Linked DNA regions of Homo sapiens. The protein of the gene in region 1 purifies or fractionates together with the protein of each later gene. This does not show direct contact. Each region holds a gene or a part of one and is shown in the gene's direction. Other genes may lie near its edges. The genes, in order: CAPG, DAZAP1, PFKFB3, ETFB, KHDRBS2 and STK38.

Evidence for each region.
Region 2: the proteins of CAPG (region 1) and DAZAP1 fractionate together in Homo sapiens (co-fractionation; one large-scale study listed by BioGRID). This does not show direct contact.
Region 3: the proteins of CAPG (region 1) and PFKFB3 purify together in Homo sapiens (affinity purification with mass spectrometry, with the first as the bait; one large-scale study listed by BioGRID). This does not show direct contact.
Region 4: the proteins of CAPG (region 1) and ETFB fractionate together in Homo sapiens (co-fractionation; one large-scale study listed by BioGRID). This does not show direct contact.
Region 5: the proteins of CAPG (region 1) and KHDRBS2 purify together in Homo sapiens (affinity purification with mass spectrometry; 2 studies listed by BioGRID and IntAct, with this or other methods). This does not show direct contact.
Region 6: the proteins of CAPG (region 1) and STK38 purify together in Homo sapiens (affinity purification with western blotting; one study listed by BioGRID). This does not show direct contact.

Annotation. Positions count from the first base shown.
Region 1 is NC_000002.12:85,403,867-85,407,366, reverse strand, and holds part of CAPG (macrophage-capping protein), read left to right. Parts: intron 1-3,500. UniProt on the Homo sapiens protein: Calcium-sensitive protein which reversibly blocks the barbed ends of actin filaments but does not sever preformed actin filaments. May play an important role in macrophage function.
Region 2 is NC_000019.10:1,406,254-1,410,385, forward strand, and holds the start of DAZAP1 (DAZ-associated protein 1), read left to right. Parts: upstream 1-1,332; 5' UTR 1,333-1,520; coding exon 1,521-1,549; intron 1,550-1,631; exon of another isoform or gene 1,632-3,368; coding exon of another isoform or gene 3,369-3,826; intron 3,827-4,132. UniProt on the Homo sapiens protein: RNA-binding protein, which may be required during spermatogenesis.
Region 3 is NC_000010.11:6,219,932-6,223,431, forward strand, and holds part of PFKFB3 (6-phosphofructo-2-kinase/fructose-2,6-bisphosphatase 3), read left to right. Parts: intron 1-726; coding exon 727-934; intron 935-1,449; coding exon 1,450-1,596; intron 1,597-1,709; coding exon 1,710-1,814; intron 1,815-2,923; coding exon 2,924-3,053; intron 3,054-3,500. UniProt on the Homo sapiens protein: Catalyzes both the synthesis and degradation of fructose 2,6-bisphosphate.
Region 4 is NC_000019.10:51,356,389-51,359,888, reverse strand, and holds part of ETFB (electron transfer flavoprotein subunit beta), read left to right. Parts: intron 1-3,500. UniProt on the Homo sapiens protein: Heterodimeric electron transfer flavoprotein that accepts electrons from several mitochondrial dehydrogenases, including acyl-CoA dehydrogenases, glutaryl-CoA and sarcosine dehydrogenase.
Region 5 is NC_000006.12:62,276,226-62,279,725, reverse strand, and holds part of KHDRBS2 (KH domain-containing, RNA-binding, signal transduction-associated protein 2), read left to right. Parts: intron 1-3,500. UniProt on the Homo sapiens protein: RNA-binding protein that plays a role in the regulation of alternative splicing and influences mRNA splice site selection and exon inclusion. Binds both poly(A) and poly(U) homopolymers. Phosphorylation by PTK6 inhibits its RNA-binding ability.
Region 6 is NC_000006.12:36,516,480-36,519,979, reverse strand, and holds part of STK38 (serine/threonine-protein kinase 38), read left to right. Parts: intron 1-2,139; coding exon 2,140-2,263; intron 2,264-3,500. UniProt on the Homo sapiens protein: Serine/threonine-protein kinase that acts as a negative regulator of MAP3K1/2 signaling. Converts MAP3K2 from its phosphorylated form to its non-phosphorylated form and inhibits autophosphorylation of MAP3K2.

The DNA of each region.
Region 1 (3,500 bases):
CTGGACAGAATTCACTGGCACTACTACCATCACTTTGAACATATGTTCAAAATATGGGTGATCAAGCCCCATTCCAGACCTGTGGAATCAGAATCCCCAGACCAGGGGCTTGGGCACTGTTAAAGAAAAAAAATATGGCCCAGGCGCAGTGCCTCACGCCTGTAATCCTAGCACTTTGGGAAGCCAAGGTGGGCAATCACTGGAGGTCAGGAGTTCAAGACCAGCCTGACTGACATGGTGAAACCTCACCTCTACTAAAAGTACAAAAAATTAGCCAGATGTGGTGGTGCACGCCTCTAATCCCACTACACAGGAGGCTGAGGCAGGAGAATTGCTTCAACTCAGGAGGCAGAGGTTGCAATGAGCTGAGACTGTGCCACTGCGCTCCAGCCTGGGCAGCAGAGTGAAACTCTGTCTCAAAAAAAAAAAAAAGAAAATTACTAAGAGGAAACATCAAGGGTAAAGAGATTCTGGCTAGACTGAGCTAACAGGATTCCTTTTTTTTTTTGAGACGGAGTTTCGCTCTTGTTGCCCAGGTTGGAGTGCAATGGCATGATCTCAGCTCACTGCAACCTCTGCCTTCCGGGTTCAAGTGATTCTCCTGCCTCAGCCTCCCGAATAGCTGGGATTACAGGCATGAGCCACGAAGCCCAGCTAATTTTGTATTTTTAGTAGAGATGGGGTTTCTCCATGTTGGTCAGGCTGGTCTCGAACTCCCGACCTCAGGTGATCTGCCCGCCTTGGCCTCCCAAAGTGCTGGGATTACAGGCATGAGCCACTGTGCCCGGCCCCTAACAGGATTCTTGCTGAATACAGGCCAGAGTGATCAGACATCACTGGGGCGGCGGGGGCAGGGTGTTGAGGAACCCAATCAGATATCCACGATTATCAGATCGACCAGATATCAAGGGTAGGGGGTTCTAGGTAAATGGCCTTAGCAGGGTTCTTTTGCTAAAACCGGATTTTACAAGCACACAGATGGGCCTACGGGGTGGTTCAGAAGCCTAGTTAAAGTTTGGCCAAGCAAAGAATCTTTGTCAGTACCGACATTTTAATAAGGTCCCAAGGTCATTCTAATGAGCAGCCAAACTCCTTTCTTTTCTTTTTTTTTTTTTGAAACCGAGTCTCACTCCATTGCCCAGGCTGGAGTGCAGTGGCATGGATCTTGGCTCACTGCAACCTCCGCCTCCCAGGTTCAAGTGATTTCCGGATAATTTTTGTGCTTTTAGTAGAGACGGGGTTTCACCATGTTGGCCAGGCTGGTTTCGAACTCCTGACCTCAAGTGAACTGCTCACCACGGCCTCCCAAAGTGCTAGGATTACAGGCGTGAGCCACCGCACCCGGCCTGCCAAACCCCTTTCATCCAAACCCTGATGTGGCTCTCTGGCATGTAGGCTGCCTGATTTTGAGTTAAACACAGAATGAAAAATAGTAAAGGTGACAATTGGCGCACTCCGTGTCTCATTCTTGAGCGCTCCCTGATGGCTTGAGCTTGGGGCAGCCACTTCACCAGCTCAGGCCTGAGTCACAGGCTGGGCTGCCTGTTGCAGGGGATGTGGGCACAGCATGTGATCCTCTGTGGGATGGAGAAACGTTAAAGTTTCCCTCCGCAAACCTCTGCTCTCTGCATGTCCTCTTCCGGAATCGTGGTGCCAAAATATGCCTTCCACTATTTTGTAGGTTGGGAAAGGAAAAGGAAAGTCATAATTCACACAGCATTTCACATCCATTATCACTGCCCTTGACCTGTCCCTCTTTGTTTCCTACTCAGACTTAATACCTTCTGCTCTGTCATCTGCCTTCCCCCTACCCCTGACTTCCCTGGCCCCTGCGAAATATTGCACTTCCTGATCCTGCTGCCCCAGCCCCCAAGAATCTCCTAATGGTGCCAGCTTGCATTTTTACCCTCCAATTCCCCAAGCCCTTACCCTGTGCCACTGGGGCTCATCTTACACAAACTCTGTCCAAATGGATGCACAGCATGAATTGTATTATGTACGAAGTGCATGCTGGCTCTGTGATCTCTGCATTTTGAGCCAAAAAAAGAAATCCTCTAGTGATGGGAACCTATGAAAGCGACAGTGAGTGGAGCCGTAGCTGTTGCATTTTCTGAATTTTTTAAAAAGATAATATCTTTTTAAAAAATACTTGCGTTTAGCATTTTTTCCCTTGAATGACTTTTGTCCAGAAAAAGTGTTCATCATTCTGGCATTTGAGGGAAGCTGGGCATACAGAATTGATAGCTGATGCCTGGGAGTGGGTGAAATTTCTCAGGGAGGGAGTTTAGAATTAGAGCAGCCATTAAATATAATGTTAGGTGAAGGGTTTTTGTTTGTTTGTTGTATTTTAATAGATGCCTTTTTAACAGGTTAAGGAAATTTCTTTCTATTCCTAGTTTGTGGGTAAAAAAAAAATTTTTTTTTTTTTTTTGAGAGGGGGTTTTACTCTGTCATCCAGGTTGCAGTTCAGTGGCATGATCTTGGCTTACTGCAGCCTCTATCTCCTGGGCTCAAGCGATACTCACTCCTCAGCCTCCTGAGTAGCTGGGATCTGGAATTACAGGCTTGCACTACCACATTTGGCTGATTTTTATTTATTTTATTTTATTTTATTTTTTTGAGACAGAGTCTTGCTCTGTCACCCAGGCTGGAGTGCAGTGGCACAATCTCAGCTCACTGCAACCTCTGCCTCCTGGGTTCAAGCAATTCTCCTGCCTCAGCCTCCCAAGTAGCTGGGATTACAGACGCATGCCACCATGCCCAGCTAATTTTTGTATTTTAGTAGAGACAGGGTTTCACCATGTTGGCCAGGCTGGTCTCGAACTCCTGACCTCGTGATCCACCCACCTCGGCCTCCCAAAGTGCTGGAATTACAGGTGTGAGCCACTGCACCTGGCCTTGGCTGATTTTTAAAATTTTTGTAGGGTTGTGGTCTCCTTATATTGCCCAGGCTTGAAAAAATTTTAAACTAGGAATGAATGTAGAATTTTGCTAAATGCTGTTTCTGCATCTATTGAGGTGATTACACATACATGTTTGTTAATAGGGTGTATAGCATTGATTTTCAAATTTTGGCCTGTTTTTTTTTTTTTTGCGTTGTGAGCGGCTTTATTTATTTATTTTAAATTTATAATTGACAGATAATAATTGCACATACTTAGCAGGAGCAGTGTGATGTTTCATTGTACATATGCAATGTATGTGTATATATTGTATAATGATCAAATCAAGGTAATTAGCATATCCATCACTTTAAACATTTATCATTTCTTTGTGATGATAACATTCAAATCCTCTCTTCTGGCTATCTTGAAATATACACTGCATTATTATTAGCTATCATCACCCTGATTTTCAGATATTAAACCAACCTTGCATTCCTGGGATAAACCTCATTTGGTCATCATGGTTTATTTTTTATATATTATTTGATTTCATTTGCTAAAATTTTGTTAATTTTTTTTTTTTTTTTTTTTTTTTGAGATGGAGTCTCACTCTGT
Region 2 (4,132 bases), on another chromosome or scaffold:
TCTGTTGCCCAGGTTGGTGTGCAGTGGCGCGATCTCGGCTCACTGCAACCTCTACTTCCTGCCTTCAAGCATTTCTCCGGCCTTAGCTTCCCGAGTAGCTGGGATTACAGGCGCCCACCACCACGCCCGGCTAATTTTCTTTTGTATTTTTAGTAGAGACGGGGTTTCACTATATATGTTGGCTAGGCTGGTCTCGATCTCCTGACCTAAATTGATCCTCGGCCTCCCAAAGTGTTGGGATTATAGGCGTGCGCCACCTCACCCGGCCTTGTTCCTTGTATTTATTTAATTCTGTGATGATGAATAAACCAAACGATCAGGCTGTCAATGTGCTGTGAGATTAAGGAGAAAAGCAGTAGGCAGCACGTACCCGGTTTTACAAAACCCTGCGGGTCACCTGTTTACTACCGTCAGCCTAGACCGGTTTTTCCACCTCCTTCTGCTGACATTGGAGGACGGGTATCATTCTTTTTGGGGGGTCGTCGTGTGCACTGCAGGGTGCTGAGCGGCATGTCTGGTCTGGACCCACTCGATGCCAGCAGCACCCCGCACTCAAGTTGTGACAACCAAAACCGTGTTTTCAGACATTGCCAAGTTATCCCCTAGGGGGCAAAGTCACCCAGAAGAAGAACCACTGATGTATGCAATTAACAGATGCAACTAAAACAGTATTTGGCTATTAATAGTAATAGCACTTGGGGGGGGGGTCAATAATATCTTTTCATAGTCATTGAATTTAGTTAATTGTTTTGATTTGATTCCAGTTCAGCCCCGAACTGGGTGACCTTGGCCAAGTGACTCAGCCTCTCGGACCCTCGGGATCCTCTTCTGTGAAATGCGGACAGGGGAAGGAGCCTCGCGCGGGACGCTCACGTGCCGTTCCCGCTCCGTCCGCCCGCCTGGGGTGCGGGCGGGTACACTCCCACTCCCCGCAGCGCCCCACGCGGCTCCACCGCTTCCGAGTGAAGAGTTAAAGAGGAAGCGGCAGCCGCGCCTGCGCCCACAGTGCCTAGCCCGGAGCGCCGGTCTCGCAAGCGCGCACGCGCACGCAAGCCCGCACGCGCGCGCACGCACGCACGTGGCTCGGCCCGCGCGCATCCTCCCCTTGCAGGGGCGGGGCCAGCGCAGGGACTCCATTTCCCAGCGTGCCCCGCGGCAACGCCAGGAGCCTCCGAGGAGAAAGGAAAACGCGCGACGGCCCCGACTGCGGCGGCGCGAAATCCGCCTCAGGGACGCACGCACAGACGGAGTACCCCTGGACCCGCCCCCGGAGACCCCGTGCGGGAGCGCGCCCGGGCGTGCGCAGGGGCGGCGGCGCGGCGGCGCGGGGACGCGCGGTGACCGTTGGCGCCGAGGGGAGGAGGCAGCCGCCGCCGCCGCCGCCGCCGCCGCCGCCGCCGCCGCCGCCGTTGCGCAGATCCGGGCCGCGGCTGTGGGGAGGGCGACGGAGCGGGTGACCTTCCGGAGGCGGGAGCGAGCGAGGAGGCCCGGGAGCGCCGAGCGTCGCCGCCGCCGCCGCCATGAACAACTCGGGCGCCGACGAGATCGGGTGAGGACGAGCGGCGCGGGCCTGCGTCTCCGCCCCGAGCCCGGCCCGCCGCTCCCCGCCGCCCGGCCTCAGACGCCGCCCCCCGGGGCCGCCCCGTCAAGGTCACGCCGGCCGGGGGCGGACTCGGGACCCGGACTCGCCGCGGCTTCGCGCCGGGGGCCCTGGACGGGTGCCCGGGGTCTGGGGGGGTCCTGGCGCCCCCGCCGCCGCTTCCCGGCTTCCCGTCCTGGGGGATCCTGAAGGAGAGCCTGAGGGGTCCGGGGGGCCCCGCCGCCGCCTCCAGACTTCCTGGTCGGGGGAACCCCGAACGGCAACCTGGGGGGGTGTCCTGGGGCGCCCGTGCCGCCGCTTCCCGACTGCGCGTCCTGAGGGACCCCGAATGGGAGCCAGAGGGGTTCAGGGGCCCCCGCCGCCGCTTCCTGGTTGTGGCGGCCCCGAACGGGAACTTGGGGGGGTCTGGAGCGTCCCCGTTGCCGCCTGTAGGGCTTCCTGGCCTGGGGGACCCCGAATGAGAACCTGAGGGAGTCTGCGGGGAGTCCAGGGCGCCGTCGCCGCCGCCTCCCGGCTTCCTGGCCAGGGGGACCCCAAACTGTGGCGTGGGGGGTGGTCCGGGGCGCCCCCAGCGCGCGCCCAAACTTGGCGGGCGGCGCACGTGGCGAGCCGAGGCGAGGGTTCCGGTTCTGCCACCGCCCAACCTATCCCACTCGGGGCTCCGGGCTCCCCGCTCCCATCCCACCCCCCCAAAGTGGTAAGGTCGGGAGGGGTTCGCAAACCCAGGGCCCAGGGGGCTCGGGTCAGCCGGGGCCTGCTGTGTTTACGTTGCCTCGGCGCCTCCCCGCCGGGGGTGGGCTTGAGCTGCGGAAGGGAGAGTCAGCGCTTCCGAGGCGGCGACGGGCCCGCGGATCTTTGCTGCGCCGAGGCGTCCCCTCCTATAGGAGCCTGACCTGCTCCGGACCCCGCGGGGCCGGGAAACCTCATTTCGCTGTGCCCCAGGGCTCGGCGCCATTCTTTGGTAGGAGCGGCTCCTGCCGCAGCGACGTCGTTTTAGAGTTGCATTCTTCCGGCAAAACAGTCTGGGTTGGGTTTCCTAGTGGTCTGGTGTAAATTTCTCGGTGCCCTTAGCTTTGAGCAGCGCCCTGTGTTCTCAGCGCTGGGCTTGGCTAGTGCGGGAGCGGTTGCTGCTAGAGGGTTGCCTTGGCAGGCGCCTCTCGCACCAGCTACAGGTCACACTTGTGGATGGGAAATGCCTTTTGTGGGCTCTCCCCCTCCCCAGACAAAACAAAAGAGCACCTTCCGTTGGAGAACCAGGATGAAAGCACTTAGCCCCTGCCTAGCCCGTGCTGTGAGTCCTCTCCAGGCACTTTGACTTGGCAGGGTCCGTGTGCCTGTGTGAGGGACATTGCAGGGATGGGCCTGAGCAGGGAGTCCACCGGCCATGGGGGATGGAGCCATCGACTTTGGGGTGAGGCAGGGAAAGGGCTCCCAGATGGGGTACCTGGATTAGGTCCATTCAAGCCGCGGGTGAACGTGGGCCCGCTCCACCCAAGCCGTGGCTGTGAGGAGGCTGGAGAGAGGTGAGGGCTCCTGTCCCCTCCCTGCATGGACACCCTTGGGAAGTGGGGCAGCTGGGGTCCCAGCCTGGGTCTGGAGGGGTCCCACCCACAGCACAAATAGGCTCGCAGGCCACCCGGACGCCACGGGCTGCGTGGAGGAGAACTGGAGTGCATGGACCCTGCTCTCCTCCCCGGCTGCCAGGAGTGTCCACTGCTTTCTAAGTCAGACTCCTTGGGCAAGAAGTGTTGCCACAGCCGCCCGTCGCATGGGAGACCGGCTTCCATTCTATGCGGAGTCCACGGTCTGCTCTGATCTTGCTGTGTGGAGTTGTTGTGTGCGTGAAATGCTTGTGACCCTGCGAAGCGCCCTCCTGGCAAGTCCCCTGCAGGTGCGGTGGGTGCCATGCAGGAGGGTGCTGAGCTTGGATGGAAGCAGGCCCTCTCTGCGGCAGATGGCGGCTCTCAGGACGCCATGGGTCTGCGGTGTCCCTTACCCACTGGGGGGGCTCGGCAGCCTGAGGAGCTCCCTCTTCCTGATGCAGAGCCCTCACTGCTCACTGCCATGGAGGAGGCAGGAGATCCCGCCGGACCCCGCTTGGAGGGCTGGGCCTGGAGCATGCATGGGTGCGGGGTCAACGCCTCAGGAGACTTGGAGCTTGGGAGCCCCCTGTTCTGGGACACTTGTGGCCGTCCAGCTGCTGCCCTGGGAATCCACACCTGGAAGGTGGGTTAGGGAGCCATCCTTGGGGGAAGCTCTGCTTTTGAGTCTGAGAAGTCGTCCCAAGTTTTGAGGGTCCCTGTGCTGGCTTAGAAGTCCATGTAAAGCTTGATGGGGGATGAAAGTCAGCTGAGGCCTGCCGGTGATAACGGATGCCTTACACACACCGACTTCCAGTCAGCTTGAGGGGGGCTTCATGCAGGAGGAAGCGCATACGTGTGGTGGGGTGTGGGGAGTCCCTCTCTGGATCCTGGTGGGTTTGGCACGCGGACCCTACATGGTGGATGTGATGGACAGTGTCCTCCTTTGGGA
Region 3 (3,500 bases), on another chromosome or scaffold:
AACAATCCTTGATGACAAATCATATTCAGTGGGAATATTTTGAACACTGTGTAGAAGTACAGGAAGTCAACATAGAGTTGAGCCTGATTTTGCTACTGTCCCTCCGATAGTTCCTTTCTTTTTTCTTTCCTTTCTTTCCATTTATTTATTTATTTATTTACTTACTTACTTGCTTGCCTGCTTGCTTAGAGACAGGGTCTCCCTTTGTCTCCCAGGCTAGAGTGCAGTGGCATGATCATAGCTCACTGCAGGTTCAAACTTCTGGGCTCAAGTAATCCTACCGCCTCAGCCTCATGAGTAACTGGGACTACAGGTGTGGGTGTCCACGCCCAGCTAATTTTTTTTTTCTTTAGTAGAGATGAGGTCTTGCTATGTTGCCCAGGCTGGTCTTGAACTTCTAGACTCAAGCAATCCTCTTGCCTCGGCCTCCCAAAGTGCTGGGATTACAGGCATGAGCCACTGCACAGGCCCCTTTCTTTTTTTCTCCATTTTCTTTCTTTTTTCTCCCCCTTTTCTGGGAGGCAGGCCAGCCTCACAGCCAGACACCAGCTGTGGGAGTTGTCTTACGCATATGCTCTGCCCCTTAGAAGGATTCAGTCTGTGCCCTGGAGGGGCCTACGGTCCCGCCTTGCTGTTCTCTGGGGATCACATCTTCGGAGACGGGCCAGGTGCATCCTGCTGTGGGTGGTGGCCTGAGCTGTGGTTCTCGGTGGGGTCTCTCTGCAGGGACTTGTCGCTGATCAAGGTGATTGACGTGGGCCGGAGGTTCCTGGTGAACCGGGTGCAGGACCACATCCAGAGCCGCATCGTGTACTACCTGATGAACATCCACGTGCAGCCGCGTACCATCTACCTGTGCCGGCACGGCGAGAACGAGCACAACCTCCAGGGCCGCATCGGGGGCGACTCAGGCCTGTCCAGCCGGGGCAAGAAGGTGCGGGGTGTGCTGCCGCATGGGCCGTTCTGGCTGTAGGGCGGTTGCAGGGTCTATAGGGTGGGTGGGGAGCTGTGTGCTGCTGCTGCTGCTGCTGCTGCTGCTTGGTGTGCTTGCTGTGTGTGTTATCTGTGTGTGCGCCTGCACGTCTCTATGCATATCTGTGTGCATCTCTGTATGGCTCTGTGTGTGTGTGTGTCTACGCCTATCCATGTGGCTTTGTGTGTGTGTGTCTTTGTGTTACTTTGTATGTGTTTGTATGTGTGTCTCTGGTGTGTGTATCTCTGTGCATGTGTGTGATGTGTGCGCGGTTGTGCACTAGGAAGGGAAGGGGCAGGAAGAGCTGAGCCTGGTCTCTGGGTAGGGTGTGTGCGGCTGTGGCTGTCCCAGTGGCCTGGGGCCCCCACGGTGTAACCAGGTAGTGCACAGCCCTACGTGGGCTGCCTGCTCCAGCCCTGGCTCTTGGAGGAGCTGCGGGCATCTGGAATCAGTGGTCCCCCTCCACCACCTCTCAGTTTGCCAGTGCTCTGAGCAAGTTCGTGGAGGAGCAGAACCTGAAGGACCTGCGCGTGTGGACCAGCCAGCTGAAGAGCACCATCCAGACGGCCGAGGCGCTGCGGCTGCCCTACGAGCAGTGGAAGGCGCTCAATGAGATCGACGCGGTGAGTCCTGGGAGGCGGGCAGGCAGCCTCACCCTCGGGCATGGGGCGGCTTCCCAAGAGGCCCTAGACACCCCTGTGGTTTGTTCCCCTGAGTGACCACTGGGTCCCCGCAGGGCGTCTGTGAGGAGCTGACCTACGAGGAGATCAGGGACACCTACCCTGAGGAGTATGCGCTGCGGGAGCAGGACAAGTACTATTACCGCTACCCCACCGGGGAGGTGAGCGCAGGCTGGGGCGGGCTGACGGTCCCCAGCACACATGACCACTGCTGTGCAGGGCTGGGCCACCCCTCCAGGGAGTTCACTTCCGTGTGGGTTCTGGGGGCTCCTACACCCTCCACCTTGGAACTGAGTCCCCCCAAACTGAACCTTCTAACAGCCTGGGGTGAAGTGCATTTTCCCATAAGCAGAAGTGAGATGTGTTTCCCTAGGGACATAGAACTATATGGGAGAGGAGGAAGGTGGTGTGTGAAGGTCCACTGGGCAGGGTGGTGGGCAGGCTGGCAGGAGGGGTGGCTCTATATCCCCTGGGCAGCGTCTGTGCTTCCCCGTGCACGGTGCCCGGGTGGCTGTGGCTGAGGACGCTGTTGCCTCCTCTGCCGATGGGATCCTCCTGGGCCTGGTGTGTCCTCCCTGCCCGTGCCCTGCTGAGCAGTGTCGTGCCTCAGGCCCCTGCAGGCCCACTGTCCTCTGGCCTCAGACTAAGCCTTACACACCGGGGCCCTGGTTAGCACAGCAGAGAGCCCACAGGAGCAGGAGCTTTTCTGGTCTTTTTCTAAAGTCACAGCCCTCCTGCTTCTTTTTACATTTTTAAATTGATAGAAAATACACATAACCTAAAATTGACCACTTTCATCACGTTAAAGTTATGATTTAGTGCATGTTAGTGTACTCACAGTGCTGTGCAGCCATCACCACAAATTCCAGGCCTTTCCCTCACTGCACAAAGAAACCCAGACCTGTTAGGAGCCGCTCCCGCCTGCCCGGCCCAGCCCCGGCACCGGCCCGTCTGCTTCCTGCATCTGGATCTGCCTATTCTGGGCATTCCATGTCAGTGGAGTCAGATGCCACACGTGCCTTTTGCGCCCAGTTCTTTCACACAGCATTGAGTTTTCCAGGTTCCCCCGTGTGGGAGCGGAGTGGGGAGGGCTTCACTCTTTTTGTGGCTGAGCAATAGTCCACGTTAAACCCTGCTCCTTCTCAACCACTGCTGATGATGGATGATTGATTTTGCGTGGCTCTCTGGCCGGTCTGATGCAGTCTGTGGCCAGCGGCAGAGCCCCTCCCGAGTGCCCTGAGCTCACGTGGGCCCGGCCCTCTGTGCTCAGTCCTACCAGGACCTGGTCCAGCGCTTGGAGCCAGTGATCATGGAGCTGGAGCGGCAGGAGAATGTGCTGGTCATCTGCCACCAGGCCGTCCTGCGCTGCCTGCTTGCCTACTTCCTGGATAAGAGTGCAGGTACCTCGGGCAGGTCGTGGCCCCGGGATGGAGGGAGGAGGGGACTGGCACTCGGCGGGGGGTCAGCCGCAGACCTGCCGTGGCCTGCCCTGTGTTGGCTGCTGTGCCATGGGGTGTTAGGAGAAGGGCACAGGTGTCGGCTCCCGGCTGCTTCAGGTCCTCTCTGTCCAGCGCTTCCTTGAAGCCCTTGGGAAATGCTGTGGAGCCCAGGTTGATGCCGGGGACTTCATTGCTTCATAAACAGCTCCCTGAGACCCGCCCCTGGCTCCACACATCCCAGGGTCTTGGCTTGGGGTGGGGGCTGCACTTCTCTTCAGTGCCCTCTAAGGAACAAACAGCCCGGAAAACTCTGACAATCCCATTGAAATGTTAAGTCTTAGCATGTCCAGTCCAGTGCAGCTGAATCCCTAGACAGACCTAAATTGTTTGGGAGTGACTTTTTCCCAA
Region 4 (3,500 bases), on another chromosome or scaffold:
ACGCCACCATGACCTGCTAATTTTGTTTTTTGGTAGAGATGAAGTCTCTCTATGTTGCCCAGGCTGGTCTTGAAATCCTGGGCTCCAGTGATCCTCCTTCCTCAGTCTCCTAAGGTGCTGGGATTACAGGCATGAGCCATCATTATTTAAAAAACAAACAAGCTATCATTTTTCAGCCCTACCATTGTTTCCTGACTTATGTAATATAACTAAACTGTTTTTGAAGCTTAAAATCAACTCAAGCTTAATTGAGAAGATGAGCTAGTTTGTTTCCTCAGGTGTGTGTGCGTGCGTGTGTGTGTGTGTGTCTGGAAAGTTCTTACCCTTTCTCCTCAGGAGTCAGGAGCCTGGGAATCAGGAGCTTAGGGCTGGGAGTTCTGCCAGAGCAAGAGCAAGATGTGGCTTGAGGCCCTTCAGAAGCCTCCCTGACTCACAGCAAGAAGCTTGGGGCCTCTTACTGATGGGTGGATGAGGTTCTTTTCTGTCTTAAAGGGGCAACTCCTATGTTGTGTTTTTTTTTTTAAGAAAAAAGGCCAGGCACTGCGACTCACACCTGTAATCCCATCACTTTGGTAGGCTGAAGCAGGCGGATCACTTTAGGCCAGGAGTTCCAGACCAGCCTGGGAAACACGGGGAAATCCTTTCTCTACAAAAAGTAAAAAAAAAAAAATTAGCCCGGCATGATGGTGCCCGCCTGTGGTCCCAGCTACTGGGGAGGCTGAAGTGGGAGGATCACCTGAGCCCGGGAGGTGGAGGTTGCAGTAAGGCAAGGTGGCACCTCTGCACTCCAGCCTGGGCAACGAGAGAGATGAAAATAACAGTTCTTTCTCTTTCCTCTCCTCTTCCAGCTCCTTCTCCTCTTTCTCCTTTTTCTTTTTCTTTTTCTTTTTTGAGATGAGGTCTTGCTCTGTCACCCAGGTTACATGTAGTGGCATGATCACGGCTCACTGCACCCTTGACCTCCTGGGCTCAGGTGATCCTCCCGCCTCAGCCTCCTGAGTAGCTGGGACTACAGGTGTGTGCCACCATACCTGGCTGTTTTTTTTTTTTTTTTTTTGTTGTTGTTTGTTTGTTTGTTTTGAGGCGGAGTCTTGCTCTGTCGCCCAGGCTGGAGTGCCGTGGCGCAATCTTGGCTCATTACAACCTCCACCTCCTGGGTTCAAGCAATTCTCCCTGCCCCAGCCTCTGAGTAGCTGCAATTACAGGCGTGCACTACCATGCCCGGCTAATTTTTTATTTTATTTTTATTTTTAGTAGAGATGGGGTTTTGCCATGTTGGCCAGGCTGGTCTTGAACTCTTGACCTCAGGTGATCCGCCCACCTTGGCCTCCCAAAGTGCTGGGATTACAGGCATGAGCCACCACGCCCAGCTGTTTTTGTTTTTGTTGTTGTTGTTTGTAGAACCTGTTGCCCAGGCTAGTATCCAACTCCTGGGCACAAGTGATCCTCCCACCTTGGCCTCCCAAATTTCTGGGATTACAGACAGGAGCCACTGCGCCCGGTCTCAGTCCTCCATCTTTTAATGTTACCCTCTCCATGAGGCACAGCCAGAGTGGGAAGCCCCTTATGGGTCCCACCTTCTCATCTCGGATTCTGTCCTGCCTGTGGGAGGAACAGTTACACCCACAGCCCCAGAGAAAAAGGGGCAGGGAAATAGCAAGAGCATCCCAGTGTCCTCACCAGGCTCAGCTGCCACCCGAGATCTGCTCTGGCCAAGCCCTGGGTGGCGGCCACATGGGAGAAGAGGAAGAGGGCAGGCTCCAGGCCAAATGGGGCAGCTCCCTAGCAAGGCTTCTGTGGATGTCCCTGGAGGCTTTTTAAAAATTTGTGCCCCAAACCAAACTCGCCGTCTTCCCGGCTCTGGCTGATGTACTGACTGGAAGCCCCTTTTTGGTGTCATCTTCCCATCACGAACCATGGCCTGTCAGTTGCACCTCCAGAAACCTCTTGCATCTGTCTCTGCTGTCACAGCTGTCTGAGCCACTGTCACCTCTCACTTTGGTGACAAACAGCCACCCAGCTCTCTCCCCACTTCCTCTCATCCTTTTCCAATTTTCTCCACCAAGAATCCAGAATGACCTTATAAAAACTCAGGTTGGGCCAGGAGCGGTGGCTCACGCCTGTAATCCCCTGCCTTTGAGAGGCCGAGGTGGGTGGATCACCAGAGATCGGGAGTTCGAGACCAGCCTGGCCAACATAGTGAAACCCTGTCTCTATTAAAAATACAAAAAATTAGCTGGGCGTGGTGGTGGGCACCTGTAATCACAGCTACTCAGGAGGCTGAGGCAGGAGAATCGCTTGAACTGGGGAGGCAGAGGTTGCAATGAGCTGAGATCATGCCACTGCTCTCCATCCTGGACAACAGAGCAAGACTCCATCTCAAAAAAAAAAAAAAAAAGAAAGAAAGAAAAAAAGGATTGTGGTGGGCCAAGAAATAAAATAGCCCTCCAAAACAGCCAGGTTTCAATCCCTGGCACCTGAGAAGGGGAAATCACTTAGAAACAGGGTCTTTGCAGGCTGGCCATGTTGGCTTATGCCTGTAATCCCAGCACTTTGGGAGGCCGAGGAGAGCAGATCACCTGAGGTCAGGAGTTCAAGACCAGCCTGGCCAACATGGTGAAACCCTGTCTCTACTAAAAATACAAAAATTAGCCAGGCGTGGTGATGCATGCCTGTAATCCCAGCTACTTGGGAGGCTGAGGCAGGCAAATTGCTTGAACCCGGGAGGCAGAGGTTGCAGTGAGCCGAGATTTCACCACTGTACTCCAGCCTGGGCGACAGAGCGAGAGCCCATCTAAAAAAAAAAAAAAAAGAAATTAGAAACAGGGTCTTTGCAGATGTGATTAAATTAAGCATCTTGAGATGGGGGCATTATCCTGGATTATTTAGGTGGGCCCTGAATGCCATCTCAAGAGTCCTTATAAGAGAGAGACAGAGGGAGACTAGACACGCAGAGAGAGGAGAAGGCCACGTGAAGACAGAGCTGAGGATGCTGGCATTGAAGATAAAGCGATGCAGCCACAAGCCAGGGAGTGTCAGCAGAAGCTGGAGGAGGCAAGAAACGTGTTCCTCCCGGGGCCTGCAGACCCCTTGGTCTCACCCTGGTGACACTGACTTTGGACTTCTGGCCTCCAGAGCTGTAAGATTCTAAGCCACCAAATATATGGTGATTTGTTACGGCAGCCGAGAGAAACTAATAGGAGAGTGGTTAGTGGTTCACGCTACACCCTGGTCTACACCGGAAGCCTCTCTCCCTGGCACATGATGGTGTCCCCAGGATCCAGCTCAGAGCCAGGCACACAGTGGGGCCCAGGAGAGACAAAAATGATGTGCAGAAGCAAATGGGTGGGGTTTGCCACCCACCTCCCTTACCTCCCTTGTCTGTTTAGCAAAGAGGTCTTTCATGCTGGTGTTTTCCAAATTAGGTTGTGACCATGTGTGATCATGACATCCAGGCAGAGGGCTGGCATTTTTCCGAAAAAGGGTAGAAAATGTCAGAG
Region 5 (3,500 bases), on another chromosome or scaffold:
CATGATTATAATTTATCTTCATCCAATAAAACTGAGTACTGCTATTCCTTCTTCTAGTAAGCCTTTCATAATGGCTTCTCATCTAATTCATTATAAATTAAGTGCACTTCTGGTTTTATTTTCAACCTATCCACCACTACTACATTGCAACATGCAATTCTTTTTGATCTTGGTTGTCTCCCCCTCTAAGCTTGAGGGCCATACTATGACTTCTGTCTTTGAATTTTTAATGCTTGCCTTCAGTCTTATATGTAGAAGGCCTCAATAAATGTTTCTTAACTGAATGATGCTGACCTCATATCTTCCTTTTTCTCCTACCATGTGTTTAGAAGATATCTCCAGAAACAATTTTTCAGTAATTCTGTCACTTACAATGATAATACTAATTCAGTCATATTTTATCTTTGCATAATTCAAAACCTCAGGAGGCCACTTTGAAAGTTTCCATTTGTTTTTAAGTCAATTTTGAAAAATTATTCATATGCAGGAAGTTGGAAAGATAGTACAGGGAAGTCCTTCTTTACTCTGTGAGGTATCTGAGAATCTGCCCATTTGTTTCTTTGTTGTTTGGATTGAGGCTTTGTGTGTGTCTGCTTTTTATTTATTTTTATTTATTTATTTATTTATTTTTTGAGATGGAGTCTGGCTCTGTCACCCAGGCTGGAGTGCAGTGGCACAATCTCAGCTCACTGCAAGCTCCGCCTCCCGGGTTCAGGCCATTCTCCTGTCTCAGCCTCCTGAGTAGCTGGGACTACAGGCACCCGCCACCACGCCTGGCTAATTTTTTGTATTTTTAGTAGAGACGGGGTTTCACCGTGTTAACCAGGATGGTCTCAATCTCCTGACCTCGTGATCCGCCCACCTCGGCCTCCCAAAGTGCTGGGATTACAGACGTGAGCCACCACGCCTGGCCGTGTCTGCCTTTAATACTTCTGAGTTGCTGGCTTTTCTAGCACTCAGTCTGGCACATACGCGGCACAAAGAAAATCTAAGAAAACCATTGAAATGTCATTCCCGAATCTTGTGGTACTGAGACAATTGGCCTCCTTTTTTCCACTTTCTAGAAAAGAAAGTCTTCTTATGTTTATCTGTAATGTCCCATCCGCATTCATTTATGTGTTTTAATTTATATTTTTATGAAATTTTCTTTTGATTGACTATTAGGCCTTGTACATTAATATTAATATTTCATTGACTAGTTATATAGGAATGAGCATGACCACGATAAATTCATCTAGATAATGGACACAGTAGTATTCTCTATATTTATCTGATTTTAAGGTTTTTTTATGGCCTGGTACCTGAGAATGGGAACATAACTGATCATTATTCTCAGTTTCTCTTTATGTATACAGTCTATAGTGAAGCTGTTTGTTCCCACAGCAGCTGTACAAGGGGAGGAAGTGAGGTTTGGAGGTAGTTTTTAGAAACCCCTGGAAATAACTGTGTAGTATCATCAGCTTTCCTTTTGCACTTATTTGAGCACTGAATTTGATCTTTCTTTTTGGTTTGGCTATATTATGAGAAATATATCTTCATTGGAATTATATTCTGGCATCAGTTTGATTTTTTAAAGCTATAAACCGTGTAATATTTAATATATTTCATAGATCAAAATTTGGTACTATTCCCCACAAACTGCTGAATTCCAATAAAATAAACTGAATTTGGAAATTTTTTTAGAGGTGGAATAACCACTAATAGATGATATTCTACATTAATGTTAGCAAATATCCATATTATATGGCTTCCTCATCTTCTCAAGTGCAGAGTTCTGTAGTGATTGCATCTTTTATTTGCCAAATACTTGTGAGGTCATGGCCAAGCATCCTCTTGCTCCATTGTTATTAACTTTTTTGGAGGAAAGAAGTCATTTTTAGCACATCCTCCATTTGACTCATAACAGTACTTCCAAAAAGATTTTGCAGTATAGAGAGATAATAAACAATCATAAAAGCATTAGGCTATTTACCTTATATTTTAGTTATAGTTTGGAGGATTAATTCCATCAGACTAGTACTCTACTGCATTTGACTACACAATCACATATGCCCTTGAATGTGTGTTGTTAAAAACTGCATATGGGCCGGGCACAGTGGCTCACGCTTGTAATCCCAGCACTTTGGGAGGCCGAGGCAGGTGGATCACAAGGTCAGGAGATCGAGGCCATCCTGCCTAACACGGTGAAACCCCATCTCTACTAAAAATACAAAAAAATTAGCCAGGCGTGGTGGCGGGCGCCTGTAGTCCCAGCTACTCGGGAGGCTGAGGCAGGAGAATGGTGTGAACCCGGGAGGTGGAGGTTGCAGTGAGCCGAGATCACGCCACTGCACTCCAGCTTGGGTGACAGAGCAAGACTCCGTCTCAAAAACAAAACAAAACAAAACAAAAACAACAGAAAAACCCAAAAAACTGCATATGATATGTGCTATTAATAAATGAAGTATCAAATGTTTAATTTATGGGGTTTATAATCTATAGGGGATTCAACTACATATATAGACAGATATTTATATATATACATATATGATATAAATAAGTATATGGAAGGTCTGATAGATTTTACAGAAATTTTAGAGACCACTGATATAGGAATTCAGAGAAAGTCATAACTTCTGTTGTTTATGGTAATGAGAGATTTATCATTATTACCATTATCATCATCTCAACATTTATTGAGTTTACTCTTTGCCAGACACTGTACTAGACGATGCATTACCACAAGTAATCTACCCACCAACCTTATTGTGTAGTTATTAGCATTAGTTTTACAAATTAAACAAATTAAGGCTTAGATAAATTAATTTATATCAGGTCTCACAGCAAAGAAATTGTAAAGTTGAAACCCAGGCCTTTTCACCTAGATGCCACGTGTAACCATTACACCACATTGTCTCCTGTGATAGAGACCCAATGTTAGGCTTTGAAAGAATGTCAGCTATTAGTATGCACATTTTATCTAGAAGATCAATGTTGTTGTTGCCATTAACTTCTAAAATATGTTTCTGAATACAAATATTGGATGAATTATTATATGATATCATAAAATATAAGTATAGCTTATAAAAGTCAAATAAATTTATGAATGGGGGAATTTACCTTAGTATAGAATTGAATTAAGGATCATCAAGACAGCCTACTACATTTTCTGAATGACTTACATTGACTGCTTCTTAGAGAGCTTAGTGATGTGGTGGCAGAGCAGAGGGAACATTTCAGACTTCTTTGGACCCAAAAAGTGATTGGATAATTTTGTGTGGTTTGCTGAGGCATTTTTTTCCCCACATTTTTTAGAGAACTGCTTACATTTGCTGAATTCTTCTAGAAGCAAAGAACAACTGTAGGCCCTCTCTTGGGTCTTGAGGCAGTCAGGGTTTTGTTTAACATTTAGAAGTGAGCAAATTTTACGTTTGATCAGAAACAGAAGACAGTATAGCTTGATTTAAATGTTATCTGTATGTTCTGAGGTATTAGAATTTAATAACTTTGAAACAGATTGG
Region 6 (3,500 bases), on another chromosome or scaffold:
TTTTACTAAATAAACTGGGTAGGAATTAAAGCTACCCACTGAGAGTTCAGGTTATTTTTCTGCTCCACGTGGTGGAAATTTTTGCTACCTGGAAAAATTTAAAGGGTAAGACATGACATCTAACTAGCTTCTGATGTTTCTCTTCCAGTGCAAAAGGAAAACCTTCAGTTGTGATGCCAGTATACAGTTATTGATGGGACAAAAAACTGGCTTTTATTTCTGCTTTCTTAGGGCACAGGATAGCAACTAGCACCCCCCACCTTATTAAATATTTATGGAATAGGGGAAAGAGAACCTTTTTGTATAAATTGCACCTCAGACTCTTCCCTCCCTTAATCTATATTCAGCCAACTCCACTTTCAAACCATGAGGTTTCTTGCTACTGTTTCAGCCTCAAGAGAAAGGCAAGGTGTGCTCATGGTAGCTTTCCCCTTGACAAACAGGAAATGTTATGGGCACCATTGTGTCCTCCAGGGTGAGTGACAAGTGGTAATTGTAGTGCCTCTCCTTTTCTCTGGCTCCCTGCAGTAGGTAGGGAGCTTAATGGGAGCCAGGGGAGACAGGCAGATGAAGGCTGCCTTCTACTGTATTAATGTCTTGTAGTGACTGGGTCCTAGCCATGGCTGTGGGGCAGCAAGCAATGTTACTGTTTCCCAAAAGCTTTGCTTCTGTATTAAGGTCAAGTAAAGGCAGATGCTTTACTTGGTTTCATTGTGTTTCATAGCACTGTTTCTTTTCACCCTTATTGTCCATTTTTTCCCACCCCAATACCATAAGTACAGATGTAAAGATGTAGGTTTTCTGTACAGTTGCAGCTTTTAAAAAAATTCCCCAAAGAATGATTTTAGTAGATACTGAAAACTCAAATACATAAAGTCAAATGCCTCTGGGCCTCCAAGAGTTAGCATAGAAGCCTGAAGCAAGTTAGATATAAGACCAGGGGAGAGGGTGTTGAAATGGAAGAGTAATGGAAGAGTGCCTTGTCTCCCTAAAGACATGTCAATAAAACAAGCATCATATCAAACATTGTATTAAACCAAACAACAGCCATGGACTAAATTTGCCAACAGCCATGGACTAAATTTGCCAATTTGTGAACCTTGGTACATGTTTTACTTCAGAACATGTTGTAAAAAGTCAAGACCTGTAGCATATGTTAAGACCAAAACCACTATTCAGGGATTGGACTGAGTCTTAATAAATTTAGATCTGAATCAACCCAATTTAGACCTTGTGACACTTAAAAAAGAGGGGAGGGGCCAGGCATGGTGGCACACACCTATAATCCTAGCTACTTAGGAGGCTGAGGCAGGAGGATCACTTTAGACCAGGAGTTTGAGGCTTCAGTGAGCTATGATCACGCCACTGCACTCTAGCCGGAGTGACAGAGCGAGACCCCATCTTGTTTTAAAAAAAGTGTGTGTGGGGGGGATTTGATAATATGCAGTGATGTTTGATTACTGTTCTGCATTTAAAGTAAATAAGGTAAATTTGATAATAAAGCATTGCTTTAACAAAATAATTCCGGTTCTCTGAAACTTTCTACAACTTGGTCCTTTATAGGTATTTCAGTAAAAGTATAAAATTGGAAATGTCATTAATTTGAATCTACAACTTTTCATAGGTGTTCTTGTATTTCAATTCAGTAAGGATTGATTGAGCACATAGCAGTGAACTAAATGCTGTGGTATCATAGCATTCTAGAATTTGTCAGTGAGCTCACTGTTGTTGCAGATACTAGTGCAGACCCGAGGAAGAACTTGGAAGAGAGTCTCACTTTGGGGACTTATTTTTATCATAAAAGATTATTAGACAAAACTCTATGCAAAAGAGTAGTAATTTTAACTAATCAGAGATTCAGTTTATAGCAGTGTTAAAGTTGCTATTTGCATTAAAGCCATTCATTTTGCCATTTTTTAAAGCCTTTCATCACTCAAGTTTTCATCACTGAATACCTTGAAGTCAAATGTTGTCAATTTTGAGTTAGTAGGTTTGCCTAAGCAGAAATTGGATCTTTTATATCATCACGATTAAATACTCAAAACAGTATTTAAGCACAGTATTTAAATTGTTTAAGCAAATATACAATCTAATAAAGCAGAGCAAGCTTTGTCATTAATCAAATGCATATACCTCCAGGTTGGCCACATTCGTGCGGAGCGTGACATTCTAGTGGAGGCAGACAGTTTGTGGGTTGTGAAAATGTTCTATAGTTTTCAGGATAAGCTAAACCTCTACCTAATCATGGAGTTCCTGCCTGGAGGTAATTACTTGACGATGAAAGGTCATTTTTTCTTTTTGTTCTGTGGTTTCTTTCTCTCACATCACGATTAACCCTCCTTTCTACTTTTAAATGTGCTCACAAAGTTGCTTTCTATATCCTTTTTTAGGTCTATAAAGGAAGTCAGTAACCTGTCTTGTGCTGGGGTGCCTTTCTACAATCTTAGTACCATAAAAGTAACCTGTTAATTCATTTACATGATTTCAGATGGACATTTCTTTCTTTTCTTCTTCTTTTTAAAATATATAGGAATAAATTAGGGTGCTCTGCCTGCTCTCCTGTCAATGGGAATCATATATGATCAATAACCCAAGTGACAACATTGAAGCTATAACATCCTTTGCTCCAAATTTTTGTTTCTTTTTGTATAACATATTAATAAGGAGTGAATTTTTTGTTACCCATATTAGTAGCCAGAAAAAATTTCTCATTTCTGAAATTTTAAGTTTTATGTAACTCAGCATGAGCATCTCCTAAGACAGCTCCAAAGTAAACCCAGAACAGAACATGCCATCTGTTCTGAGGAAAGCAGTCTGTTTGTCAGTGAGCAGATGAACTCTGAGCAAACTCTGGTGGGAAAAAAAAAGAGAGAGAACTTTTTTCTTTTTTGTTCCTATAATTGTGGCATAATATTTTGATTTTGTGACAACCCTTAGATTTAGGGTCATCAATACTTTTTAATAAAGAAACACATTTAATAAAAAATAAACAGTTGATTAATGTTAGAAAAGAGTCTGGTAGAATGAGGAGAAACTTTTTTAACATTTAGATGCTAGTTCTTAAATAAGAGTAAGAGCCAACTTGGTTACCAGCTCCTAACGTGTCCTCAAGCCTCAACCTGTACCATCTTCCGTAGCTTCTCATGTCTCCTGGACCCTGCCCTTTGCACTTGGTGGAGCTGGCCTGCAGAGCCATAGAGCATCTGGCCTGAGCTCTCCAATCATCTGGGCAAACTTGCACAGGCGAGGCCCCATTGACTGCTCTCCTGAGCCACAGAACTAAGGCCGTATAGCTACCTTACTGGGGTAGCAGCCCAAGTGCACTGTCTCCATGTGTCTGGTGGGTCTCCAGATTGAAGGGCTGCCAGGAGTGATTAGGAAATCATATTTTTTAAGTATTGGACTGAAAAAGAGCACTTTAATAAATGGTTTAATTTTTGCCTGAGGGAAAAATAGCTACTTTTCTCCAATAATACAAAACATAATGTTCTAAATGAAAT